4 linked regions of the Homo sapiens genome follow. The protein of the gene in region 1 interacts with the protein of each later gene in a biochemical or structural test. Each region holds a gene or a part of one and is shown in the gene's direction. Other genes may lie near its edges.

What was found.
Region 2: the proteins of KLF3 (region 1) and NFIC form a complex in vitro, tested with the Homo sapiens proteins (one study listed by BioGRID).
Region 3: the proteins of KLF3 (region 1) and NFIB form a complex in vitro, tested with the Homo sapiens proteins (one study listed by BioGRID).
Region 4: the proteins of KLF3 (region 1) and NFIA form a complex in vitro, tested with the Homo sapiens proteins (one study listed by BioGRID).

What each region holds. Positions count from the first base shown.
Region 1 is NC_000004.12:38,688,189-38,695,213, forward strand, and holds part of KLF3 (Krueppel-like factor 3), read left to right. Parts: intron 1-396; coding exon 397-883; intron 884-1,540; coding exon 1,541-1,691; intron 1,692-6,285; exon of another isoform or gene 6,286-6,364; intron 6,365-6,557; coding exon 6,558-6,718; exon of another isoform or gene 6,719-6,719; intron 6,720-7,025. UniProt on the Homo sapiens protein: Binds to the CACCC box of erythroid cell-expressed genes. May play a role in hematopoiesis.
Region 2 is NC_000019.10:3,369,581-3,376,605, forward strand, and holds part of NFIC (nuclear factor 1 C-type), read left to right. Parts: intron 1-7,025.
Region 3 is NC_000009.12:14,311,126-14,318,934, reverse strand, and holds the start of NFIB (nuclear factor 1 B-type), read left to right. Parts: upstream 1-4,793; 5' UTR 4,794-5,423; coding exon 5,424-5,453; intron 5,454-7,809.
Region 4 is NC_000001.11:61,456,556-61,463,308, forward strand, and holds the end of NFIA (nuclear factor 1 A-type), read left to right. Parts: 3' UTR 1-6,233; downstream 6,234-6,753.

The sequences.
Region 1 (7,025 bases):
TGGTTTGGCTTGACTGGTTCTTGTGATGCCCACCTCTGACTCCTAATGATAATGGCCCCCAAGCCTGTGCTATCACCTGTCTTAGAATTTTGCCAGGTATCGGCCTTAATGTTTGACACAGGAATCATCTTAGGATTAAATTTCAGATTTTTCATCTGCAGTAGTGACCACATTGATCTTAGTTTTAATATTTTTGAGACCGCCTCTCATAGCATTTTTAATGTTGAGACCACCTCTTTGAGCATTTTTTTAAGGTCACATATATATCGAAATCTAAACTATTTTGTAAAGCCCATGTAATTGTTAAGTGCCTTGTTAGCATATTTTTCTTAATTCATGTTTCAAGTAAATGGACTTATTTGGCTGTTGACACGTTTTCCTTTTCTTTTCTAATAGTCATACCCATCTAATTACATGGAATCCATGAAGCCTAACAAGTATGGGGTCATCTACTCCACACCATTGCCTGAGAAGTTCTTTCAGACCCCAGAAGGTCTGTCGCACGGAATACAGATGGAGCCAGTGGACCTCACGGTGAACAAGCGGAGTTCACCCCCTTCGGCTGGGAATTCGCCCTCCTCTCTGAAGTTCCCGTCCTCACACCGGAGAGCCTCGCCTGGGTTGAGCATGCCTTCTTCCAGCCCACCGATAAAAAAATACTCACCCCCTTCTCCAGGCGTGCAGCCCTTCGGCGTGCCGCTGTCCATGCCACCAGTGATGGCAGCTGCCCTCTCGCGGCATGGAATACGGAGCCCGGGGATCCTGCCCGTCATCCAGCCGGTGGTGGTGCAGCCCGTCCCCTTTATGTACACAAGTCACCTCCAGCAGCCTCTCATGGTCTCCTTATCGGAGGAGATGGAAAATTCCAGTAGTAGCATGCAAGGTAAATTCCGCCACTGCTCCATGCTGCTGCACTTGCTTAGCGTACTGGCGCTTCACCAGATGGGGTGGGTGAGGAAGCATGGGGGCAAGAGCTGTTGAACTCTTCAAAGGAAATACTCATCTGCCTAAGGCATTTCCTTCCCCCGCCCCCCCAAAGTGTTGATACTGGAAGAGATCCCAAGAATCAGGCTGTCTGTTTGATACCATGACATGATTACTTTCACTATGTAATGGTCAACTTGGGGATAGAAAGAATCTTGACTTTATGTTGCTTTCTTGAATACCAACATGGTTCTAGGTACAAAAGGCATTTAATAAATCCTTTTTGATTGTGGTGAAAACTAATGGTGATCAAAAGCTACCTTGTTTATCAGCTGGTCATAGAGGACTAAGGGGTTGAAAGGAAATAATCCAGAATTATAAGAACGAATCATTTCAGGGCTGGTGTCTTATAATCTAGGTCCCTATATTTGCTGCTTACTGGCAAAATAATGGTCAGGAGAGGTGAGAATCTCCCACAGATTTGTTCCTGCTATAGTCTGCCAAAGGCAAATAAACCTGTCATATCTGTGTTGTAGGTAGGAGCTATGCAGTAAGCTTTTAAAAGCTGAAATTGGTAAACTGTACGTGAAGTGACTTTTCTATTTTTATTTTTTAGTACCTGTAATTGAATCATATGAGAAGCCTATATCACAGAAAAAAATTAAAATAGAACCTGGGATCGAACCACAGAGGACAGATTATTATCCTGAAGAAATGTCACCCCCCTTAATGAACTCAGTGTCCCCCCCGCAAGCATTGTTGCAAGAGTAAGTATATTTAGGTCTACCCAGCATTTGCATAGTAGTGTGCATCTTGGAACCTGGAGCAGAAGCACAAGATTTCACACGTGTGATGTGGTGTGGATGACCAGGAACGGCTTGTGATCTGTGGCCGCCACTGGTCCAGTACCACTGGTCAAGATGGGAGAATCTCTCCAAAAACAATATGCTGTTACACTGACAACGTTATGACAAAAGTTACATCAAGTTTTCATGGAATCAGTCATCCATGATTTTGCACCTTACCACATGAATTATTTTTGTTTTTTTTCCATTCTTCCAGGCTATGTATACTTAGTTTTTCCATTATGAGAATCCTTGTATAGATTAAACTTGGTGTTCTGTGGATCATGTAAAGTTTTCATGTGGACACACATAGTCCTTACAGAGTGTATAGTATCCTGTAGAATTGCTATCCAGTAGGAAGGCTGTGCAGTGTTGGTCAGCATCCAAGCACCTGAATGGTGGTTTCTTGTAGGTCTAACATGGTATAATGTGGTAGTTGCCACACACAGCTTCAGTAACCTCATTTGTGGGATCCTGCTGTAGATAACCTTGACCTCCACCAGTGATTACACTGAAGGCTGGGTTTGTAGTTGCTAAGAAGATGGTTTTCGGGTCCAACAAGGATCCCACCTCTGCTCTCTGCCATATGTATGATCTTGGACTAGTCACTTAATCTTGCTGCCCCATTTCTGTTTTCATTATTGATTGTAGTTGTGATTGTCTTGTGTTATGGTGCTTCAGCATTGGATTCAGCAGCCAGCTTCCTAGTACGAAGGCAACGATTACCTCCACAGGGTCCCTTCCATTGTCCTCCTGCATCATTTTCCTCCAACTTGAATAAATGTTCTACCCACCTTTCTCCTTTATTTTCTCTACCCCCTGTACCCCGCTCCCTCTCACAATTAACTCTACAGCAGAATGTGAATTCTCTGATTTTAGAATAACTATTTTATGGTAACTTCAAATATATCCTAGTTGTATCCACATTCAGCTTGGGTAGGTACCTTCATAGTAGCTCATGGATTAATTGTCCACTGCACCCAATCATAGTCATTTTTGGTTTGGGTTGTCATATGCTCCCCAATAGATGAAGAAGAGAATAACTCTTAGCCGACTTCATCAGCAGGTAGGGAGAGAGTCTCTGATGGAGTTATATTTCATTATTCCTCACAATTGCATAGTGCCCTCTTACCTCAAAAAAAACCTTCCCAGGTGTTTTCAAAGGAATTATTTTATTCCTCCACAACAAGCCTGTGGGAGTCGGAGCAAAAGGCAAAGTGATTACCTGAGACATTAGATAACTCGCCAATATTCACCCTGCTAACAACTGAGGGGCCTTGGGCTTGATCTCCTGCTTCCGAATCAGGGCTTTTCCTGCCATCTTGTCATATCCAACCCATTGCATCTGCTCATGCACTCAAGTGAAAGGAAAAAATGACTAGGCAAAATGGACACATCTTAGAGGTGGAATTAACTCTTTTTTTATGTTGAGGGATGTTTCTGGCAAGGTAACTAGCAACGTGGCCTGCACTTATAGTTGTTCCTGCATGGGTGATGAAAGAGATGCTATAAAACTAAATAAAACCAACTGCCTCCAAGGGAGGGATCCGTTGACTGGACAAGTGTTATTCCAAAGTCTGGGTTATTATGAGTTGCAACGTAAAACATTACATAAGAAGATTTGAAGGCAATATTCTGTGCTCTGAATGCTGCTCAAAAGAAAATACTTTTATTTTAAGTAATATTCTTTTGATGATCTCAAGCTCAGTGGCTTTTAATGATTAATGAGTAATATGCTTATTTTAATGCTGACCTAAGAATACATTCTGCTTCTCAAAAAAACGCAACAGATTAGCCACAGCTGGGACATGTACTCTTTAAGTAATGTTCTCACAGATGTGATTAAGTAACGTCTTGGAGTATGCCCAGTAGCAGCCCACGTAGGAAACCAGCTAGCCAGGAAAGAATCACTTGAAACTAGGCACCCAGTACCACTGCAGTGAGGCAGCCCCAATAATATTTGCCTTAAGAAACGCTTCCTTTCCAGAGGCAGACTTAAAAGTACAGCTTTGAAATCCATTTGCTCGATTGTGGTGTGGCAACTTTAGGATTATTTATAAAGGCACTCAAAGGTACATCAAATTCTATTTGTTACAGATTTACAAAAAGATTTCTTTGTTCTAAATATACAAAACTATATTTAGAACAAAAAGCATAAGGATCAGATTTCCCTATTGAGTTGTGTATGCGAATTATAGCAAACTTAAGAGGGGCTGTCTCAGCTCAAAACAGTGGACAAGATATCTTATATGTATTAGCTCTGTAACTTCTTGGTTATAATAATCCCAAACCATCTCTTTGAAAATGGGAGTGGAGACCAAAAAGTGTGAGATCCCAAGACTCTTCATCTAGCCTTGGCCTGAACCAACATCAGCGTCTTCAGAGATGCGGCAGGTTAACTGTGCTCAGAATGTTTGAGGGACACAGCTCAAGCAGAGATATCCTGGTTTGGGGACATCCTCAAAAAACTCATGAAATTAAACAACCATAGGGTACAAAGTTACAAATAGACTATTTTGAACCTGAAAATATTCATGGCTACCATTTATAGCTTTATCTTGGGAACAGACATTGTTCCGAGATATAACCTTCTGAGATAACATTATTATCATCCCCAGTTTACAGAGAGGAAACTAAGACACAGAGAGGGCGAGATCTTGGCCCAGGATCACAGAGACTGTCAGTGACAGAGCTGGATTTGTAACTGGAGCCCACAGCCTTTCGGTGCACCTTTATGTGTAAAATAAACAACTGGAAAGGGCAGTCAGAATTACTGCACAGAAACGATTAGATTCCCAACCCATAAAATCCAATAATTGGGAGAGATTTCTAAAGTTATCTGAAAAAGATAGTCTCCCAGTATCCCAAAGACATATAAAAGTTTTATAGTTAATAATTAAATTTCTACCCCAGCACTTTATTTCCTGAATTTCTTTTAATGGAAATGAAATATTTTCATTAGATGGCATTAAAGCTGAAAGTTAAAAATAAACTGAACTTTTTTCTTTCTATTGAAGGATTTTAAATGAATAATTCAGCCTTATAAAAACTCTGTCTGTAAACCTCTCACTTTGCTGTGTTCTCTGCTGTTTGCACATATATATATATGTATATATATACACATATATATACACGTATATATATATGTACATATATATACATATATATATACGTGTATATATATGTGTATATATATACATATATATAATTGAAGTCATTTTTCTTTTCTCCCTCCTCACTACTTTATGTTCACTTTTCCATGTATCTAAACTTGGCCTATTTTATCCATCTCTACCACCCTTCCAGGTATTAGAGTAGGAAGGTGAGAGTCAAAACTGACAGTTTCCTTTGCTCATAATAAAGCATGAGCAGTAAATAAATAATGTTTTTTTTAAAAAAAAAAAGCATGAGAAGTAAGGTCACTTAAGAAACACACCTTTTATTCTTTTTCTAGTCACTTCTTAGCATGCCTGAAAAAGTGATTGACAAGGGATGTGTATTCAAATATTTACCAAGACAAGTTTTATACCAAGAGACTCCCTTTTGATTTTTATGGATAAATTTCTTTTATTCTTTTTTTAAGCTCACGAGTTAGAGTGTTTACTCTCATCAAATTCTTTTTTTCCTTTTCACACACCTTTTTTCTCCTCAAACACTTAGGCAAAATATTCCTGTATTATATGGAACATTTTAGGAGCTATAGATTCAAATATGAAAGAGAAAGAAGTCTTTCATTACAGTTAGAGGCCAATGACATACACTTGTGATATATCAAGTAATTAGTCATTAGGAAAGTGAATGAGCAGATTAGAACATTATAATTACTTACATTAATCAGCAGGGGAAGCCTGAGGAACTTAACAGACTTTTCCCAGCTCTTCCTCCATCTCCCTTTTCTCTCCACCACCTTCTTGCTGAAAAAAAGCTTAGATTGTAAGATTTTTAACAGGATTTGGTTTCTAATCCACCCAGGGAAGGTGCAAACTCAGGAATGAGAGAGAAATCAGGAAGGTAGGGAGAACGTCAGGCATGCCATGGGGGAGCCGGCACCACGTGAGCCAGCATCATGGGTGACCACAACACTACATTGAAATTCTCCCTCATACAGGAATCACAGTGACAGTGGAGGTTTGAGTTTGTGAAGACAGCAATGCCAACTTTTTTGTTGTTTTTTGGAAGAGCTGGCATTTGAAAATTGCACATGAATTGGCAGTCTCTAAGGGACTCCAATTAAATGCCAATTACATAAAGGATAAAAACGTAGATATACCCTACAATGTGGTTTCCTGAGACTTAGGAGTTTGATCTTTTCCATTTTTCCCTAGCCAACAATAATGAAAATCAGAGCAGCCTGTGAAAAAATATAGTGTTCAGCATTGCCTAGAACCACAAGATTCTATAAGTAGGCAGAAGTTGACTGAGGAAAAGAGCCTCCCCAGCACTTGGTGCCTGCCTCTAGCATAGCACTTAACCCTTCTTACTGTCATTACTTATCTCCATGTCTGTCTCCCCCTAGAGTGTGAGCTCCTCGAGGGCAGGAACCCTGTTTTTATTCATCTTTGTGTCCCGGTGCCAAGCACAGTGCCTGGCTCATGGTAGGTGCTCACTCAATGTTTGTTGAATGAATATAGCAGTGCTTCTTGGGTTGATCAGCTAATTTCTTTTTGTTTATTTTGTTGGGATTTTTTGTTTGTTTGTTTTTGCCCAGTGTTGTTAATGCTTTTAGTAGACTGATGAAAAAGGAAGAGCGTGCTCTCAACATTTGGCCTGTAACCTTGGCTTTCACAGGAATCACCCTTCGGTCATCGTGCAGCCTGGGAAGAGACCTTTACCTGTGGAATCCCCGGATACTCAAAGGAAGCGGAGGATACACAGATGTGATTATGATGGATGCAACAAAGTGTACACTAAAAGCTCCCACTTGAAAGCACACAGAAGAACACACACAGGTAATAGAAACACCAGACCCACTTCATCTTTCTTCTTAAGAAGTATTAGAATGGAATGCAAAGGTTGTTACGATCAAAGTTTTCAGGCATCTTGAAAGTCACCACAGTCATCTCCAGATGTGTCTTCTCCAGATTAGTTGTGCAGAATGAAGATATTGCTAATGATTTGCCTTTGTAATAAGTTAGAATAGATTCAAAGTAATCCCCAAAACAAGGCCACTCACAATCACTTGCAGTTCTGTGCTCTCTAGCAAAGGAGGGAGAAAGGGTTGGAGCCTTCGCCGCTGGAATGGGGGAAGTGCTTTCA
Region 2 (7,025 bases), on another chromosome or scaffold:
TGGGTGCTGGCGGCCCTGGGGCATTCTGGGAGCCCCGGGCCGGGCTCAGCGGTGACTCAAGCGCTTTTTCACTTTTACTCTTAAGAGGAACTGTGTGGAGCCCATGGCTCCCATAAATCCTGCCGGCGGGAAGGCCGGCCTCCCCGCGCCTGCTCTGGGCCTCCCTCCCTGCCTCCCTCCCGCTGGCGCCACCGCCACGTTAGTTATTCCGGGTTTGGGGCCAAGTCCCTCTTGGCCGCAGCGTGGCGGATTCCCCGAGCCACCTCCATCCCGCCACCGGGTCCCTGTCTCATTCGTTCGTTGTTTCCTTCATTCGTTCGTCCCATGCCCTCTCGGAGCACAATGTGCTTTGCTGCCATTTCTCCAGCAGGGTAACCGAGGCTGGGAGAGGCTGTCCTCCCACCCCAGACCCCCGACCTTTGTTGGATTTTCTAGATCTTCCTTAAGCATCTCCTGGGCCCTGGGGATAGGTGGGGGTGGGGGAGGCAGCAGGGCCCAGGCCCAGTGTAGGTTCTTAGAGGGAGCTTGGGGGGTGCCTACCAGGAGCAGGGGGCCTGCAGCCCCTCAGTGCCGGGAGAGGGGCTAAGAGTCAGAGAGGGCCAGGGCCTGCCCGAGGTGGCACAGTGGGGCTGGCAGAGCTGGGGTTCAGGCCATTTTCCATCTGGCGGCTTGGGCAGGTGGGCGCTCTCTCCCCGTGTGCCCCCCACCCGGGGCCTGGTGGCCTCTGATTCACTCTCTACAAGGCTCCACCACTCTCCCGCTGTATCTCCCTCTGGGTCTCTCTGTGCATCTCTCTCTGTTTCTCCCCCTCCCCTCTCTGCGGCGGAGGTGCCTCTGCGCGCCAGGGCCAAGCGCCCTGTAAATCACCAAAGCTGGGATTCTGGCAGAGTCAGCGTTCTCCTCTCTCTCTCTCTCTCTCTCTGTCTCCCTCCCTTTCTCCCCCCATCTCGCTCTCTCCTCCTCTCTCCCTCTCTCCTTCTCTGTCTCCCTTTCCGTCTTTCCCTCTTCCTTTCTCTCTCTCTCCCCGTCTCCCTTCTCTCCCTCTCTCCTTCTCTCTTCTCTCTCTCTTTCTCCCTCCCTACCTCCCTCTCTGTTCCTCTTCTTTCTCTCTGTCTGTCTCTTTCTTTCTCCCTCCCTTCCTCTCTCTCTGTTCCTCCTCTTCTTTCTCTCTCTCTGTCTCTCTGAGCTGGCCTCCCTCCCTGTCTCACACCAAATGGATGGGAAATGCTGCCTGGGCCTCCTGCCCCGGACACGGCCCGCCCCCCACTCTCCTGCCTGTGTCCACGCCGACCTCACCTGGGTGCCCATCTGCCCTGAGCACACAGCGTGCGGGCACCCAAGTCCTGACCAGTTCACATCCATGAGCACACGCTGGGCGCACACGCGTGCACACTCCCTGACACCCATACGGACGAGGACACAGCTCTGCCTGCCTCGGATCTGCCTTGATGGGGGTCACCAACACACAGACCTAGAGTGCCCCTCACATCTGCCTGAAAATCTTGCTCAGGAGGTGCCAAACCCAATATAGTACCTGGTATAGAGAAGGTGCCAAATAACTGCTATAGAGTGGTGCCAAATAAGTGTTGCTGTGCTTGTGATTGTTGCTAAACTAATTCTCCTCTTTCCTGACTCTGGTGGGTGACCTGCCCCCACCCCCGGACCGTTTCTTGCCCTGAAATGAAGTCAGCAGAAACCCCCACTTCCTCAGGGCTGCTGCAGATTCAGGGAGGCAGCACAATTTTTTTTTTTTTTTTTTTTTGAGGTAGAGTCTCGCTCTGTCGCCCAGGCTGGAGTGCAGCGGTGCGATCTTGGCTCACTGCAGCCTCCGGGGAGGCAGGACATTTCTGAGGTCCACAGTGCAGGGCTTGGTACTCAGTAGGTGCCCAATAAATACCTGTTGCACGAATGAATGAATGAATGAATGAATGAATGAATGTTTTTGGTTGAGAGGCGGGACTTTGGTCTTCCCGAGCCTCCATTTCTCCGCCAACATAAAATAAAAAACATAATGGCACTTTCCTCAGAGACATCGATGTACCTTAGTCCGACACCTGGTATACAGTAGGTGCCAAATAAGTGCTGCTGTGCTTATGGTTGTTGCTAAACTAGTAATTGCATTGAACACCCCAGAGGCATTTTCCAGTTTCCCTCCCTTCCCTCTGTGTGTATTTGCGCAGCGTAAGCCCAGCTTTGGGCTGGGTGACAAGGACAGTGGTGACCTGGAAAGGCCCAGGCTCAGACCCCTCTCTACTGTGGCATTTCTGTTAGTTTTTCTTTTCTTTCTTTTTTCTTTCTCTCTCCTTCCTTCCTTCCTTCCTTCCTTCCTTCCTTCCTTCCTTCCTTCCTTCCTTCCTTCCCTCCCTCCCTCCCTCCTTCCTTCTTTCCTTCTCTTTCTCTCTCTCTCCCTCTCTCTCCCTCTCTCTCTCTCTCTCTCTCTCTCTCTCTCTCTCTCTCTCTCTCGGAGTCTTGCACTGTCGCCCAGGCTGGAGTGCAGTGGCGTGATCTCAGCTCACTGCAACCTCCGCCTCCTGGGTTCACGCGATTCTCCTACCTCAGCCTCCCAAGTAGCTGGAATTACAGGCACGTGCCACCACGCCTGGCTAACTTTTGTATTTTTAGTAGAGACGGGGTTTCACCATGTTGGCCAGGCTGGTCTCAAACTCCTGACCTCAGGTGATCCACCTGCCTCGGCCTCCCAAAGTGCTGGGATTACAGGCATGAGCCACCGTGCCCGGCCTCTGTTAGTCTTTTCTCCCTGCCCAGCCCTGTCCAGGGTCTCCCTGAGTTTGACCAGCCCTGTGTGGGTACCAGCCTTCCTTACACATGGGGGTGCATGGATAAGGGGGGTCCCAGAGGCAGAAGATGGGAGCATTGCTTCAGTGGTCTGGATGCTGGAGATGCTAACAGATCAAAGCTGTGCCCTTGTGGGACCGACAGTCTAGGCCGGGTCGGGGACGGGCAGGAAACGAGGTGACCAGGACTCCTTGAGGATGTGGTGTGCGACCGACCTCGGGGATCAAACAAGGGGAAGGGAACCACGTGGGACTCGGAGAGTGTGCACGGTGCAGACCAGGTGTCACTGGACGCTCTGGCCCGAGACTGTTTGCTCAAGGGGCCCAGGAGTGGGGTGGGGGGGTGCCAGGAGGCCCAGGGACCAGTCCCAGCTCAGTTCCTCCCTGACTGTGTGACTTTGGTGGAAGATTTCATGCCTCAGTCTCCTCCTCGAGGTAGTGGGTGCAATGATAGTCCCCACTTTCATAGTAGACTTTTTTTTTTTTTGAAACAGAGTCTCGCTCTGTCGCCCAGACTAGAGTGCAGTAGCACAATCTGGGCTCACTGCAACCTCCGCCTCCCGGGTTCAAGCGATTTTCCCGCCTCAGCTTCCCAAGTAGATGGGATTGCAGGTGTGTGTCACCGCACCTGGCTAATTTTGGTGTTTTTAGTAGAGATGGGGTTTCACCATGTTGGCCAGGCTGGTCTTGAACTCCTGACCTCAGGTGATCCGCCCGCCTCGGCCTCCCAAAGTGCTGGGATTACAGGTGTGAGCCACCGCGCCCGGCCCCTATTTCGTAGTAGACGTGATAGCTCAGCAAACGCTCAGCCTGTAAGAGGCACAGCCTCGCTCCCTGCCTCTCTCCTCCACCTCCTGGCCCCTCTGGCTCAGCCCTCATTGTCCTCCCAGAACATCAAGGCACAGAGGGAAGTAGGGGACCCAGGGTTCATTTTGCTGACTCACTGCCTTGGCAGAGAGTTTGAACCCTGTGGACTCAGTTTACCCAAATTCCTCACTGTGGCCCACAAGGCCCTGCCCAGCCTGTCCTTGTCCCCTCCTCAACCCTCCCCTCCTCTCTCTTTCCCCCTTGCTCATTCTGCTCCAGCCACATGGGCCTCCTCGCTGTTCCTCTAACACGCCAGGTGCGGTCCTGCCCCAGGGCCTTTGCATGACCCATTTCTCCATCAGAAAGCTCCTGGCCTGGAGTGCCATCTCTCAAGACTTTGTTCAGGTGTCTCCTCCTGCAAGAGACCTTCCTGGACCCCCCCCCCAAGCTAAAAAACACCCCCCACCCCAGAGATTCTCTGGTCCCTCAAACTCTTAAATTTCTTCAGAGCACTTTGCCCAACTTGACGTTTTATTACATATTTTGCTGATTTTAACCATCCGTCCCTGCCCCAGATCTGGATCCAGGTGAGGGCCGAGCCCAGGTCCCTGCCAAGTCCTCGGCACCCTACCTGGGACCGGCATGCAGCAGGCACTCACTAAATGTTTGCTGAGCAACAGAATGAATCTTCCCTCTCTGGGAGCCGTTCACATGTCCACAGGCTGTGATTTTCTGAGCCAGGGGAAGGAGCGGCCCAAGGTTAGAGCCTGACGCTGGTGCCGGATGGGCCTGGGGTTGTCCGTGGGACCATGGACAAGTCATCCGACCCGGAGAAGAAGGCATTAGAACTAAGGCTTTGAAGGATGCGTAGGAATTTGGGATAAGTGCTAAGTAGGTAATGAGCTAGATTCTCATGAAGGATTGTTGAGTCACTTTTACCTGGAAACTTTTGGTTTGGAAATTGGAGTTTCTTGTCCTGGTTTGCTGGCCTGGACTTTCAGGGTGGGAGGAGCACAGGGAGGTGAGTGAGGGCATCACCCAGTGCATGGCGTGGTCGTTCAGCAAGGTCTTGGGTCCAGATGTCTCTCCCAGCTGCTGCTGCTCTCTTTGGCCAGGAAGTCCCAGTGGGCTAAGCTGGGGTTTCCAGGAAAGACCTAGCCTTGTTCCCCTTCTCCCCATCACCTTGCAAGGAACAAGGTCACCAGGCAAGCTCCCCTGTCTCCAGCAGGCTGCAATATTCCTTTCTGCCCATTGTACAGAATGAGAGACTGAGGCTTATCTGAGGTGATCTGTTCCCCAGCCATTCAGATGGTGAAAATAGACCTTACTGTCACCCAGCCACCTTCTCCGACAGTGGGTGCCTCAACTCTGGGCCTCAGGATTGGAGAGGGAGAGGTGATAGAACTGGATGGTCCTGGCTAGATCTGGGAAACCCTGGGTTGAGGAGGAAAGGCTGCTTGAAGGAGGGGACACTAGAGATAGGGCGTTGAGGGATGTGTAGGAGTTTGGGAGGATTTTCAGCATCTAGCTTGTCTTGGTTATCTCTTTTGCCGGTTGGGCCTCTGAGGGCAGTAGGAGGTCCCTGGGGAAGAGGCCCTGGTTATTGCAGGTCATGTGGGAGAAACAGAGTGACAACCGGCCAACCAGGCCCTGCCTCTCACGTGGTCTGATCCCCTGGGGAGGACAAGGGAGGATGGGGCAGCAGGTCCATGACCCAGTTACAAGCTGTTTGTCTTCCTGCCTCTGTAACTAGCCGGGGTCACCACTGACGTGGGCCCCCACCCCTGCCCGCCTCCCTGGCACCTGTCCCCGGAAAGGGCACAGAGAAGGGGAGGAACATAGAGAAGGGAGGGACAGTTAGGGAGGAGGAAGGGAACTCAGATCTACGAGGGGCCAGATGAGAAAAGGAATTAAGAGGAGAGGGGAAGTGGGGAGGGGGAATTCAGAGAGAGAGGGGGGTTGGGGAGAGAAGGAGTTGGGGGGACAGTGATCCCTGCCCCCATCATGGATGCCTCCCCTGTCCCTTCCAGCAGCCTCTTATCACAGCCCCAGTAAGCGCCAGAGCTTGGGTGGCAGCCACGGCCCCAGCTGGACAACATTGTCCGGGCCTCCTGCCCGCCTGGCATCTCCTCCACAGGCAGGTCCTGCGCCTCTATGGGTCCTCTCTGCCGCGTCCCACTGTGCCCCCCACCACCCCCACTGCCCGGCTTCCCTGGCCAGACCATCTGGGCTCTGGTCCCAGCTCTGCTGACCGGCTGTGTGACCCTGGACAAACCACTCCCCATCTCTGGGTCTCATCCAGTCAGGGGCAGGGACGAGATTGGACAGGGCCTGGGCCGGGCCCCCTCCACCTCCCCTTTGCCTTAGCAGGTTGGCTGGGGAAGCGGGGGCAGCGGAAAAGGGCCCTGAGGTCCGGTCCCCGCCGCAGCTGTTACGGTGACTCACGCTTTGGGGGACATTGGGGTGGGGGAGCTTCGCTGGTACAAGCTGACTCTGGTCTCACTGGGTGGGGAGGCTATTTTCAGAGCCTCAGTAATAGGTGAAATCTGATGTCCTGCCCCTCCCCCCGAAGCACCCCACGGCCGGAGGTGGCCCAAGGGGACGTGGAGCACAGAGCAGGGAGGGTGATCTGGCAGCAGCTGCTCTGCCCATCCCGGCCTGGAAATGGGACCGAGTCCAGCCACATCCGCTGGCACACACAGTGGGAGTCCAGGGTCAACGTCTCCCTACCTTCCTGAGACCCCAATCTTACAGAGAACAGGCTGTTCTGAGAAAGGGACCCGTGGCCTTCCAGGGGGTCAGGGCCCTGATTCTTATCCTCACACCGGCCCTGAGACCCTGTGGGACCTCAGCCAGGTCTCCGCCCCTCTCTGAGCCTTAGTTTCCATGCCACAGAACACGGAGCGGGGCCTCAGGCTGTTCCCTGCTTCCTGGAAGATTGTCTGCAATCAAAATGATCATCGCAGCAATCGCGTCCATAGTAATGAAAATACCCCAGCATCTTAGAGGGGCCGAGGCGGGAGGATCGCTTGAGCCCAGGAATTCGAGACCAGCCTGGGCAACATAGCAAGACCCCCATCTCTACTAAAAGTACAAAAATTAGCTGGGCATGGTGGCGCACCTGGAATCCCAGCTACTCGGGAGGCTGAGACATGAGAATCGCCTGAACCCAGGAGGCGGAGGTTGCAGTGAGCTGAGATCATGCCACCGCCCTCCAGCCTGGGCAACAGTGTGAGACACTGTCTCAAAAAAAAAAAAAAAAAAAAAAAAAAAAAAAGGAAAGAAAATAGAAAATATCCCAGTGCCTTAGGAGGCCGAGGTGGGAGGATCACTTGAGCCCAGGAGTTTGAGACCGGCCAAGGCAACACAGTGAGTGAGACTCCATCTCTGCAAAAATAAAAATTAGCCAGACATGGTGGTTTG
Region 3 (7,809 bases), on another chromosome or scaffold:
TTAAGAGTAGTAGACAGTAGTAGTAGTACTCAGTAGTAGTTTAAGAGCTGGGTAATTTGATTACCTGAGCTGGTAAAATTGATTTTGCAATTCTCATCAAGTACAGGCACTTTCAATACTTCTTGATTGTTTATATATGCATTTATGAGTGGATTTTTGGTGTTCCTCCTTGTGGATATAAATTTGTGTTTTCCAGACTACACATGTATGATTTTTGTGGTTCATTTGGAAAAAGGAAAGATCCCAGGGCATGGTGCAGTAGATACTTGCAGTTTTGCAGGCCTGCTTTCTGGGGTCAGGAGGTCATCTGTCTCTTTTGCATTTAGTTTTTAAATATTGATATTGGTGATGCAGCCAGGGTGTGTAGAATAGTTGAACCTTCTTGCAAACCACATGCAAGAGCCAAAAAAAAAAAAAAAAAAAAAAAAAGGCATCGAGTGTATTGGAAATGACAGCTTTGTTAAGTTCCAAGAAATCTTTCATGAAACTGCCCAGGATTTGCAACCTGTCGCTGCAATTTCTTTAGGAAGGAAAAGGTTAAAAGAAAAACAATATTAGATACTTGAGATGTCAAGCTCCTCTCTGGAGATCCGTAGTGAAAGGCTCAAATGTGGTAGCGTTGCTTATTTCAAATATACAACTGGGTTTTGAAAAATCCAGTGAGCTGAAGCACTGGCATTCTATTTAGAAATCAATAAACTTTCTGTTAGTTAGAAAGGAAACTTTTTTTTTTCCCTTATAAGGCAGCAAGGAGATCTAGGGAGGAGATCTTTAAGAATACTGAAATAACAGAGTTTCCTGTTGCTGAGAGAATCATTCACTTCTTTCTGCCTCCTCAGCCAGGTTTTGGGGTGAATGAAAGTGGCCTGTCACACCAGTGCTTTTAACCCTCTCAGTGTGGGAGGGAGAGATGAAGAGTTTAGGATTGGTAAGTACCAAAGTTTAAGAAGTGTTTGGCCCATTTTGATACTATCAGAAGCTTTTCAGAGATATTTCCACTCTTAATACCACGACACAGACGTGCTAGAAAAAATGGAAAGTGAATACAATGCAGGCACTTTCTCAGTTCCTCCTTCTACCTGGGATTTAAAAGATTGAGATTTTCAAACCAAAGGTGGTGGACAAGTGTTGTGTTAAGAGAAGCCAGGCATCCCATGCACCGAAATCCACCAGTCCCTCTTTCCAAACAACTCCCTAGAGTTCTTCCAGGGAAGGCCTGCAATGACCTTGGCATTGGCTGGACAAGAAGAAGTGTTTTGGGGGGTGTCAGCCATTCTCCACATGGCTGCAAGGCCTGAGAAGACAGTCAAAGCCATAGAAACTGAGCACCCCCATAAACCTTCTTTTTCAGGAAGTCTCTGTTGCTCACTCTTCATTCCTTTTTGGTTTTCCTCGCCTCACCATACTCCTATCTCATTTTCCTTTTTCTGGGAAACAAATCAAAACCAAAAACTATCAAGCATCCTCTATGGTCATCAAAGTGCAACCAGCCATAAGCACCCTCAAACGTGGGGCAATTGAAAGAGATTTGAACCCCTAAGTGATGGGCCTGGGAGGCCCCAGACGTCTTCACTTCTCTGGGGTCTTACCTGGATCTGACGCTGCTTCTTCGCCCTTGGTGTTGCTGAAGCTTTTGTGGGCTCTTCTGTGTAATACTTGTCAATTTTTCGTTTTTCTTTTTTAAGCTTGTGAAAAACTTTTGGATGCAACCTAGTTTTGGTGGCAGAAGGAAATGGTTTCTGTTGGGAAAGGGAAACTAATAAAGGGAGGAGGGGTAGCGATGTCGGGAGACACTTGCCCAGGGCTCAGCCCTGGGCCTCTTTTTGCCAGGGGACAACGGCTGGTTCTGGGCTCTCAGGCTGAAAGGAGTGCTCTCTGGGTGCCAGGATTTCACTGGGGGTGGTGTGGTGAGGAGGGAGGGAAGAAGGGAGGGAGGGAGAGAAGGAGAGATGGGCGCTCGATTTTTAAAGAGACCCCGAAATAATGGCTTCTATGAGAGTCCAGGCATTCAAAGAGGTGTGTTCAAGGATATTAGTGCATTCCTGCCAAGGGGAATGTCTTTTATGGTAAATTAACTCCAGTTAAATTGAATATTTGTTCAAAGGGAAACTGCAGTAGTTAAAGCTGGTATTATCAGTAGAGCTTCCCCACCCCCTCCCCTCAGAATCTGGTGAGGGTGAGAAAGGGGATGCAGTGTAATGTGCAATACAAAGTGATGCTTTCGTGCTGGTGGTTTCTCTGTGTGTGTGTGTCTGTGTGTGTTTAATCTAAGATGAGGTTGCCTAAAATTTCTGAGAGAAATGAGTATTTACTTGGATTAACCCTGTCACCTCATTTCTTTCATCCATAAAGACTGCCAACTTTATCCCAGCTTTTCAAAAAGAAGAAATGACCCGCACAAAGGAAATTAACGTTGTCAGAACGCTGACTCCAGGATTTGCCGGGGCAGGGGCGGGGACCGCAGGGAGGCCGCTCCCAGGGCGTGTGGCCGAAAGGGTTAACTCGCAGGGGTCCGCGCGATCTCCCCGACTTTACCTGTCTTCCTAGTCCCAGCAGCCCCCGTCCCCGGCCTCCCGAACTCCCCACCCCCCAGCGCCTTTCTTCTTTGGGCTCTGGGTTTACGGGGGCTGCAGCTGGTAAACTTGGCAAGCTCGCCTCATTAAGAGCGCTCTTTGAAAACGGACTGTGTTTGAGCATTTCCCTAATGAGGACAGGACGGGGTTAAAAAGTGACCATTTCATGGTTGACTTGAACCTGCCTACTTTTCTTGATGTGTCGTTGTGAAATGCTTGATGTGGATAACTCCCACTTGGTGAAGGAAAAAGTCACTGGTTCCTCCAGGTCCGCTGGGGGAGGGAAGAGGGGACGGTGGACAGAAACCAGAGGGAGTGAGAGGGGCTAAAGTTGAGGGGACAGATCACGAGCTGGGAAGCGGTGGAAAGAGGACCGGGGAATCGGGGGCGAGCCTCGAAACGCCCCAGCAGTACCCGTGGAAGCGGGGCGGCCCCGCCCTGGGGATGGGCCCGCGAGGACCCGGTAGCCCCAGCGCCCCCCGGATCCCCCAGCTAGGTAGACTCGGAGCCCCAGGCGCTCACTTTTCCTCCCTCCATTGTCTGGGAGGCCTTTGCTTCCCCCTCGTCCCCATCCACCCCAAGCAGAAAACTGGATTTGGGGGGCGGTGTGTGTATGTGGGCGGGGGGTGCAGAAAGGGTGCAAGGCGAACCGCCTTCTTCAAAATCCCTGGAATCAAGTTCATTCACTCGGAGCCTGCACGGGCGACGGGGTGGGGGCGGGGCAGCGCCGCGGTGGGGAGCCGGCGCGGGCGCCGAGCGGCTCAGGGCCCGCAGCCTCTGGAGGGCTGCAGCGGCGCGCGCGCGCCCGCCGGCCCGCCCCGCAGCCCCGGGCGCGCCGCGGCCCCGCCCCGCCTGCACCCGGGCGGGTAGGGAGACGCTTTCCGCCGGCGCCCCGGGCCCCGGGGGGTGGGGATTGGGAGCCAGCCAGCGGGGCTGCAGGAGGAGGAGGAGGAGAGCGAAGCCGGGCGCGGGGAGGAGGTGGAGGGAGCAAGAGGCGGCGGCGGCGGCTCGGCCCGGTCCTCCCGCTCAGAGCGAGGCCACGTGCACGGGGCACCCCCGGGGAGGGCGGCAAACCGCGGCGAAGCGCCGCGCGCCGCGACTGCCTCGGGTGCGGGCCCCTGGTGGGCAGACCCGGGACGAACCCGCACCCCCTCCCTATCCGCGAACCCGGGCTCCGGGCGGGGCCGTCGGGGGCTGGGCGCCGCACCCCCCTGGTCCACGCCGGCGCGCCCCAACTACTTGAGCCCAAGTTCGCTCAGGTCCCCGCCTGCTCGGCCTCCCCCTTTTCCCGGCAGCCGCAGGCTCCGCGGACTGAGCCCGCCCCGGGTGCGAGTGTCCGCGCCCCAGCCCCGGCCTGGGGGCGGCCTGGGTGTGAGGGAATTTTCCACTCGTTCCTTTCTCGGGCTCAGACGGTTTCGGTGCTTCTCCCACTCGGATGTTCCCGCGGCTTAAAAGAGTCCGCAGCGAGCACCGAAATACCTCTTCCAGGGCGGGTTTTCGGGGGTGTGTATGTGTGTGCTGGTGTGGGGAGGGCAGCGGAAAGAAGAGCTATTTTGGAAAAAAAAAAAAAGTCATGGTTCTGTAGCACCGGTAGGATACCTTTAACAAATGAGGGAGAGGTGGGGGGAGAGAAGGAGAAGGAGGAGGAGGAGGAAGGTGGGGGGGCGGGGGGTGTGGAGAGGCTGGTGCAAAAGGAATGCGCGTTTGCAGGAGGAGGAGTAAAGCGATGATTGTGTAATTAAATAATAAAACAATCCTTAAGTCTGATTTGGAGAGAGCTCGAGCGGGGTCCAGAGGGTGGAACCGGTGAATTTTTCAACTTCCAAGTTTTGCAACGAAAGAAAGCAAGAGAGGGAGGGAAAAAAAAGAGCCTAGAGCAGAAAAGAGAGGAGTTTGGAGCCGAGCGGGAGAGCGGGATTTATCGTTTGGAATTTTTCAGGAGATCGTTTTGATACCCCTGGGCTCTGGGCAGCGGCGGCAACAGCAGCCTCCACGCTCGGCCGGGTCAGACGCGGGGCGAGGCGGGCGGGCGGGCGGCCGGGCGCCGAAGACCCGGCGCGGGCGGCGGCGGCTGCTGCTGCCGGGGACCACGCGCCGCGAGCCTCTTCCGCCCCAGAGATCAGCGCTCGCGCCCCCTCCCTCACCCCGGCCTCTCCCTTCTCCCCCATCCCACCCCGCCCCCACCCCGGCCCTCTCCCGCGCGCGCCCCGCCACCCGCGCGCACTCGCTCACGCTGCCCCTCGCGCACACACATGGTCGGCTCGCGGCAAAGTTTCGCCTGCGATCACCACTCCGGGATCCTGCCGCAGTGCTTGGGGCTGTAACCTTGAACTTTCCCAGCGCGGTGACACATTCTCCCCGCTCTCCCTCCCGCCCGCCCGCTCGCCCTCCTGCGCCCTCCCGCGCCCCCCTCCCCGCCTTTTTTGAAAAAGCATTTTACCACCAACCACCACCCCAATCCAACCCACACCGAACCTTCGCGCACCCCCTACACCCCAACAACAACAACAACTGCAAAATAGAAAACAAATCCCCAAACCCAGGCGAAAAGCAGCCAACACCGGCGGCGGCGGCGGCCTCGGCAAGCACGGCCAGCGCGCTCGGACTGCAAGAGGGTTAAAAGTGTAGATTGGATTTCACCCCTGGAAATCTAGCACGCCGAGTGAACTTGAATCTTTGGCTATTTAAGGAGGACTGGGTTTGTTGTGAAGTTGCGGTGATCCAGCGCAGAGCCCCGTCCTGATTGATCGCATCGCGGGGCTCAGATGACTGTAAAATGAATAGATGAAATTCTTGCTTCTCGAAGATTTTCTTGGGCATCTCCCGGAAAGTGCGTTTTAAGGCGAAGTCATGATGTATTCTCCCATCTGTCTCACTCAGGTACATGTCTCGGTCGCTTTCTCGAGCTTTCTCTCTGGCCCGAAATGCCTTTGTTTTGTTTTGTTGCGGACAATTAGCGGCTTGAGTTAACCTCCGCACATCCCCGTCCCTTGGAGAAGTGGCCCGGAGTTGCAGCGGGCGTCGCGGGGCGGCGTGGGAGCCGGGAGCGGCCCCTCGCCACGGCCACTGCGAGCGCCCAGCCCCGCGCCCTGGGCACGGAGCGCGGGCGCTGGGCCGGGCAAGGCCGCCGGGGGGTGGGCAGGGCCGGGACCTGTAAGTGCGAGGCCCCGTGCGGCCCCTCAAGTGCCCGTTGTGGTGCGGCATCCCCGCCCGGGGTGCCCGTAGCCCCTCTCAGCAGCTCGCGCGTTGAGGTGGACTCGGGCTTTGGAGGACTTTACGGGGGACTAAGCTTTTAAAAACAGCCAGTGAACTTGGGCGAGGGGACTGTAGCACGAGTCTGTGTGGGCGCCGCTGGACTGCGCTGCAGGCGGTGGGCGGGCGACGAATCGAGTCGGAGGTTGTGGTCCGGGGACCCATTCCTTTGCTTTATTTGGGGATCTGAAACCCTGGTCCATAGTGACCTGCTGCACTTTGGGGTTTCTAGTGACCGCACCACAAAGGCAGTATTTACGTTGACACGAGTTAGTTGGTCTTGGTGATTGTTAAGGAGTTTTTAGAACGTGTTCCTTTTGTGGAAACCTGTTCATTTGACGATATTTGGGCGTAGCTCGTAAGGCATTTTAAGTAATGCTGGTAGAAGTAAGGTCATTTTTTTCGACTTTGAGAATTGTCCTAAGACCTTAGGAATAATGTTATGAAATAAAACACTGGTTTTATACTTTTTAGAAACACGATTTGTATCACTTTAAGCCAGACGGTCAAATAGAAAAGCGGCGAGACCCAACAGACTTACCTGGGGGCAGTTTTCATCGCTGCCCAGGGAACTAACAACTGACAAAGTAACTAAAATATCTTAGCCCAGAACTGTTATTTGAGGCAGTATTTTAAACCTCTAAAGGTATGGGGCAGCTTATTTCAGCTTTTCGGAAGATGTGTCACCATTGGTAATTGATAACTATTTTCTTTGACATTGCCATGAAAACTAGTCATATAAAGAAGTGTCAGCCAGTCTTGGGCGTGTTAAAATTTTAAAAACATCTAATATCACGATGATGCATTTTTATAATGGACAAATAATTAAGATTTCAATTGTATGACAATTAGAAGCCATTGTGATTCAAAAGGACTGAGGCATTCATAAATTGTGAATGAAGATGAAAACAATGATAAGGCTTATTCAGTGATTGGATACAGTCCTGTAGCTTTTTGGCTGACACATTTTTTATTGTTTATATTTTGTTTGGCATCTGAGTATGATTAACTTAGATATGGCTATTTTCAGCAAGTAAACACGCACTTTAATTTAACAAAACTGGAAAAATGAGTTGCTGAGCTATTTGTATTTTAAAAGCCATGAATGATAATAGCCAATAAATATGATGAAACTGTTTCAGGTATAACGAATTGCCTTTACTTGTAAAAGTTACCATTAATATTACCCATCGGCTGGATATATTTTTCTCTTTCTGATAAGCTGTGTTAACTTGATATTATTTTTACACCGTGATCAAATAAAACAAATCAAAGCAAGATTTTCACTTACAGAGTATAGCATCACTTATTCTCACCTGTAAAAGATTGAATAATTGTGCATTTCTCTATATTTCTAACATCAGCTTTTCAGAAACATTGCTAGCAATTACATTGCATTTTTAGTATCCTCCAAATATGTATTGAAAAGTCACTAGTTTTATCTTAATTTGTGTAAGTTAAAGATAATATTGCAGCATTGAGACAGGGAATGTTGGGATCATATACAGCATAATCATTCAGCTATCACATTAGTATTCAGAGATACACACTTAACAACAATAACTTGTGATGACTAATATTCTCTACTATTTTAATAATATAAATCTAGGCTTATGTATTAAAACAAGGCCTACACCAGGGAAGGAATTTCAGCTTAAGAATTTTCACTTCACTAAGCTCCATGTGACTTTGCAGGTAATATAGGTGTTATAAAAGTGAGGCCACATTAATAGTGTCACTTTTGTATCAGATCAGTAGTTTTGTATCACAAGAGCCTAGTAGCTGTAGAAAAACATGTCTCAGGACATGTAAATTGCAAAATAGAGTATCATTCTTAATTGGTTATAAACTTTTAAAAGTATCTCAATTGTTGCAATAAGGTATCTAGGTTTTAGAAAAAAAATCTTAATTTAAAAGGACCTACCATTAAATGTTATGTTTAGCAAAATAGTATGCTACAAAATCAGCATATCAATAACCAATA
Region 4 (6,753 bases), on another chromosome or scaffold:
ACCTATCTGGCATCATAGGATTTATCAGTTATCAGACACCTCATTGTACCAGAGATTGTCCAGAAGTTTTAAAGACCTTTGCATCCCTGAACTGGGCTATGGGAAATAATAATAGTAATAATAATAATAATAATAATGATGAAACCAATACTGACACAAATGCTGGTGCCCATTCAGATCAAGGGTACTTGTTAGGGAAAAAAAAAAAAGTTTGCACCCCCAAACGTCCTGTATCTTATGAAAAAAAAAACAAAAAACAAAAACAAAAAAAAAACACAAAAAACCACAGAAACAAAAACAAAAAAAAGTGCAAGTGATTTTTCTACCAGACAGCGAAGCACCCCTTTGCTTCCCATGCGACTTCAAGAAGGTTTCCTATACTATACATATATATACGTTCTGGTTGGCAAGCCCTGCTGATCAGAGAAAGTCTCTGCATGTTCTAGTGTTAGTAACTAATTTTTATATAGTTAATGTAGGATAAAGTAGAGTGCATTAAGACACAATATTGTAATCCCTACTCTAGGCACTTGCCTTTAAACTATGTTTTTCAGCCCTTCAGAAGGGTTCTACTACTGTCCTATACAATCAAGTAACTGAAATTCTTGGGAAGACACTTTGCTCCTCATCTTTCTCCCCGAAACAATGTTGTTTTGTTTTGTTTTTTTTCCTTAATTTGCACGAAAACAAAAATTCCATATCAATGTGCCTTGCCCTGGATAGCGATTATTTGTGGAATTGTTGCACATGCTCCTCTATTGAAAGGGGTTTTTCCCTAGTCAAGCATTTGGAGACACTTTTTGTAAATGTGACTTTTATGTCAGCCATCGTCAGTTTCAACATCTAGAACTAAATAGAAAGCTAGTTGTTCCGCAGATAGGAGTAGTCTTTATTGTCCTGTACGGTCGGTGGCAGTGCTATTCTGAGATCTGTAGATGCTTAGAATATCAGTATTTTGGATGTTGCTGCATTTTACAATTTATTTGGAGTCTTCCTTTATTTTCCCCCAGATATATGAAAATATGCAATACCTGCTTATATCATGTAGAAAAGCTTAGCAATTATTAATTTTTCTTTTATTTTTTTTTATTTGACCAAAGTCGGTGCTGCACTTGACGCAGTGTGTTTTAGGTGTTTGTCTTTGTACTTTTTTGTGATTTTTGAATGCACGTGCGCAGGAAGGGCTCCTCTTAGAGAAGCAGTCAAACTGTGAAGCACTAAGCTGACCCTGCTTCAAGCAATTTTGTTTTTACAACTGTTCCTTTCACAAGCAAGCCTTAAAAAAAAAAAAGACAACTTCCTTTTTCTTCAGCTCCCACACCCCATTTTTCTTAGCAGACTGCAGTCAATCCACATTCAATAAAAAGTATATAATGCCCATTTTTATATGCACGTTTTTAAACTTCCAAGTTCTGAAAATTGTTTACTGGTTATCTCTATTTAAGGAAAAAAAAATAAAATAAAACATTTTGGATTTTCATATGTGTCTGATAAGTGGTTGAATAGTCGTTTGGCGCTGTTGTATGGTGTGATTGTCAGTGTATGGTGTCACTTCCTATAGCCAGCCAGCATACTTTGCCTTCCCCTATAGCACTTAGCTGGGCATTACTTTATTATGACATATGTGCACTAAAAAATGAAAAAAAGGAAAAAAAGAAAAAAAAAAAGAAAAAATAGCAGCTTTCAGTGCTTCACAGTGAAGGGAAAAAAGCCTAGACAAACATTTTGTCAGAACCTTGCAATAAGCCAAGGTATTACCAGTAAATTGGTTGTATATACAATAAAATTGCACCCTTTTTTAAACAAAACAAACTAAGCAATAGTTTGGGCAGTTTTAGTTGTTTTTAGTGAGCATGTTGTAGTCATGACTGCAAAGAGAGAGAATAAACTGCCCGCTCAGAAGATATGTAATTTGTATTGTTGTATAGTTTTATTGATTACACTGATTTATTCTACCCTATTTTATAATGCAGGACTTTTGTAATGTTGTTTAAATGAGGAAAAATTTCTGTCAAATTAGCCTAGTAAAATTTCTGATCGTTCATTATAAAGGCAGCGTTCATAGAATTGCTTTTCTTTCTTTTTACCCCCCCTTTGGGAACTGGATTTAAGTTTAAAACTTTCCTGTTTCCTTTTTTTTTTTTTTTTTGTAAGTATTTAAATACAATTATTTTTTTCTCTCAATGGTATAGCATATTCCTATGCTTGAGAAGTATAGGTCTACTGAAAAACCATTGTAAATGGACGTTACAGGTATGCTGTATTTTTGAAGGTATTTTGTTGTATTAAGTTTGATGAAGCTAAAATTAGGGAACTCTGAACAGATTTGCAGGAAAAAATGTTTTAAAGGCTTTAAAACATTAGGGAGGCAGTCTAGGGTGATAACGAACAGGGGTTAAGTATTAAATACACGAAGTTACATTTTTGTTCATGTTTCATTGTCCAGAAAGCAGCAGGAAACTATTCAGTTGTGATCAAGCAGGAAAAAAGAAACACCAACAGTTGCCAGTGTTTTTGCTTTTTAGCTTAAAAGCATAGTGAAGATGCTTGAGGAAGACTTTGCTACCTGGGGTGTGTAGACAGACAGACTGAGAGCTATCAGCATTTGAAGGCCCAGCCCTTGACTCTGAGACACATTTGAATTTTTTCTTTCCCATCAAATGGCATTAACAAGATTGGGCAAAGATGAGTCCCTCAAATTTCTGTGTTTTTTGTTTGTTTGTTTGTTTGTTTTTTCTTTGGGAACTGAAGTCAGAGGCACGAACACTAACTCTTAGCATTTTTCTGTAGACTTTTTCTTCTGGCCCTTGTCCCTGCCAGCAAAACGCCCCTTTTCTGATCATTCGTGCGCAGAGGGCCTCCCAGTAATGCCACGCTCTCCATGCTAGAGAGCCTTCTCTTTCCTCTGAGGTTTGAACTGATGTTCTGTGTCTTCACACCCTGGCATGACAGTTACGTGTGGTCAGCCCGCTCCCCAGGCCCGTCCCTGCCGCCGCCAGGTGTGGGCTCTAGGCAGGCCGACAAGGTTACACCTCCCAGAGCTTGTGATCTTCATTTTCTGACAGTCAAAGTGTGAAGGAACCCAGACTTCCCCGAGCCACGGTGTTCAGTCAGCCCACAGGAATATGCAAGACCCATCTCCAAAAGTTTGTCTTTGATTTTTTCCAAGCCCTTAGCCCCATAAGCTTTGAATCCTGTAGTTACAGTGGCATAAAGGACTGACAAAACCTGGATAAGGAAAAACCTTTTTTTTCTATGAATTTTTTTTGTTTTTTAGGGGAAAGGGATTCTAAGAATGTCATTTAATGTACTTTGCATCATGTCTCTAGAAATATCTTTGTCCATAGTGGTGGTGGAGTCTCTCTCTCTCTCTCTCTTTTTGTTTGCTTCTGTTTTCTTTCTTGTCTTCATTCTTTCTTTTCTTTTTTATTTCTGGTAGCAGGCCTCCATAGAACAAATCTAAAACACAACCACCATAGTAATGTAAGGAGAGCTTCAGTGGCACCTCAAAACCCACCCTTCGAGATCTGTCCAAAGACAGTCTCAGAAAGCTGCACTGCCCACCGGCTCAGCTTTCATTCAAAAAGGCTTCCAAGGCCAATTCTGTCTTGAAGTCAATGCATGTATTTACTGTTTGACAGTAAACCCGCTCTGCCTTCTCCACGTCCAAGGCTGTGCATTCGTCTAATTAGCGTCGTGTATGTTTTCCTTTTATTTTTTCCAATAAAAAAGCAGTGGGATGAAAATTGCTTTGATATATAGCAGGTAACATTGAAGCTATTCCATAGCACTTAACTGTAGTGAATACTGTGTCACCAATTTTGAAATCAATTTAATGTTTAATGCAAATCCATTACATGGTGCTATTATAGGCTGACAAAATGATTTACACAAATGTGACAACTTGGGCTCAATTCACTCTGCTTTCCAACAGTGTAAATGCATAGCAGTGTTTATCTGCATGAGAACTATGCACTAATCTATCTGAAGAAAAAAACTATATCAACTTTGGTATCTACTTTCCGTTTACTTCAATCCTTGCCTTTTTGGTCATTGTTATAATGCCAGCTTTAGGACAGAAAGAATTATAAGAAAACCAGCATAATACCTGATATATTAAAATGTAGTGCCTGTGAAATCTGTATTATATTGCTCTTCTGAAGTAAGATTTTTCTACACCGGTAGCCTTCGCTGTCTGTCAGTCAGGACCTTCTGGTATAGGTGATGTAAAATAACCGTACAATATTAATGCATGCGATTCCATAATGCTTAGTGAACTGTATGAATATTACTCAAAGTTATGTTAGTCTTTTTTTCCGACTTGGTTCTTGTCAGCTAGGTTTAAAGGTATTTCACTGAGAACGCAAATTCTGTCTTTTCTTGATTTCGGCTGTTTTCAGTATTTTGGAGGTATACATTTACTTAAATTCAGTATTACTCGTGTTTTGTTTTTGTTTTTGTTTTTTGTTTTCTTTTTCCTAGGGGACAAGCATGGGTGTTTGATTTCAGAAATCAGTACCTGGCGAGATTTTTGTCTCAAAACGACTATTTGAATTTCAAGAACTGTGCTGCGAAGACACTCTGAGAACATTTGCAAGTCAGGGGCATTTTCCTTGACCCTTGACTGATGCTATGCGGAGACTGATACATTTTCTTAATGGACAATGTTCAAGCCAGGTACCCATGCTTGATCTGTCTTCACACCAGACCTCCTCATATTAAAAGGAAAAATAAGAAAAAAAATGTAAGAAATCACATGGCTATTTAGTTTCATGCACAGTTGCAATATTTTCTTCAAAAATAAAACTCTGTACAAACTTTGGGCCCGATTCATAAGAAAAAGAAGTTTGCTATTAACACGGGATTTTTTTAATATACTTTTTTTGGTCTAAATTTGAAATTACTTGCTTCCCAAATTAAATAAATTTCATCTCATTTTTTTCCCTAAACCAGCACCCATCTGCCTTTTATTCCCCAAAGAGTTACCTTTCCCAGATTAGGGGGATGGTATGTGGGGAGCAGATAGCGGAAATGCTTAGAAAGATAAGGGGGACCACCCACAGCTGGTCGTGAGAACAGGGAGACAGTGTGTGGGGGTGGGACCTCATCTGTGTGCCTGGTATCCTGAGTTTTACATGTAGATGCATTCGCCTATTTGATTCAGAAAAATAAACTTTCCCAAAATGTGTCTGAACCACAAGAGCATACAGTGGAAGTGCTACCTCTAATCTAACCAGAGCACCTTCATGGTGGAAGACACCCACCAGGTCATACAATGTGAACTTTTGTATCTCTGCAGTGGTTTCAAGGACAAATAGTGTCCAATGTATTGGGCCATTTTTCCTGCTGTTTTTATACTCAACTTCTCAAAATGAAAAAAGCTTTTATTTTTCCTTTGACTTATTTGTGTTGTTCTTATTTTTTAAATTTTTATTTTTTGATAATAGTCTGTAAGTTAGCCTTTTTGGGTTTTTTTTTTTTTTTTTTGGCTTTTTTTTTTGTTTGTTTTTTTTTCTTTTGACATTGCAACCGAAGGTCATAAGGCCGCTAGCTCCGCTGGGACAGAGGCTTGAGAGAACTAACGGCTCGGTGCCTTCTCCCTGGTCTCAGACCATCGTCTCTGCACTGCGAAGGCATTTGGTAGCCTCGCCACTGAGATACTAACTAGACCTAGACTAGGAGCTTTATCAGGTTCTAGGAGGTCCTTTAGGAAGACTCTCAAAGGCAAATCCCTGATCCCCCGCCCCACCCTTAGCCCTGCCCTCTCACCAGAGCAAAATTCACTGGGGACTTTTCCCACCACACATGGAAATCTGTCCACTCGGAATACCTCTGTTTTCCATTTCAAATTGTAGGGGGAGGGGATGGAACACTTCCAGTGATGGTAAGAGATCTGTTATGAAACGAAACACCCCCCGTGTTAATAACTTGGTCTGAAATCTGTTTTTATGAGCCGGGCCCCCTGTGCCTCTAGTATACTTGTATTGACTCTCATAGTTACCCTTTTAGTTTTACTGTGTTCTGTGAAAATTTGTAATTGGTTGAGAATCACTGTGGGCGTCCATTCTTATTCAACTAAATCTCCACAGGTTTTTTGAGCTGGTGTGGATTAGTTTAACTCTTGTATTCAACCATTAGTGCTACCACCTTCTCACATTACAATACAATTACTGGAAGCAAGTACTGCATTTCCTATGCAACAAAAAAGGAAAAATAAAAAATTGCTAATGCTATGGAAGCTGTGTCATCATTTGCTTTACAGCATGCCTGGGTGATTGAGTGACAGTCACGGGTGTGGACTGGAGGCTCCCACAGAAGATGGTCTTTATGCACCATGGGGTTTGTCAGGCACATAGCATCCTTGGCTGTGTTCTGATGGGCAGTGTTACTTTTTTCACCTACTTGGACAAATACAGGATTTGACACTCACATAGTGTTTACTGTGTGCCTGATATTGTTCTGAGTGCTGTATAGATTGTATCAGTTGGGGCCCAATCGGGAATCAGGAATAAGATTCAATGGGTTTTCCAACAGGGGCTGTAAAGTTGCCTAGGTATTAGTAACTGCAGGATACAGCCACTACCCCTGGAGCTGGGGAAACCGAAGGGAAAGGTGGGCTTACCAGAACCTAGGCACTCAAGGAGGGACACCACACAGCTGATATTTGGGTCTTTTCTGAGGGAGGTGGTCACCACAAAGGTGGGGACAGCACATGGCCAGTGGCCAGACCTCTGAGAAGACATGGGGTGCTGG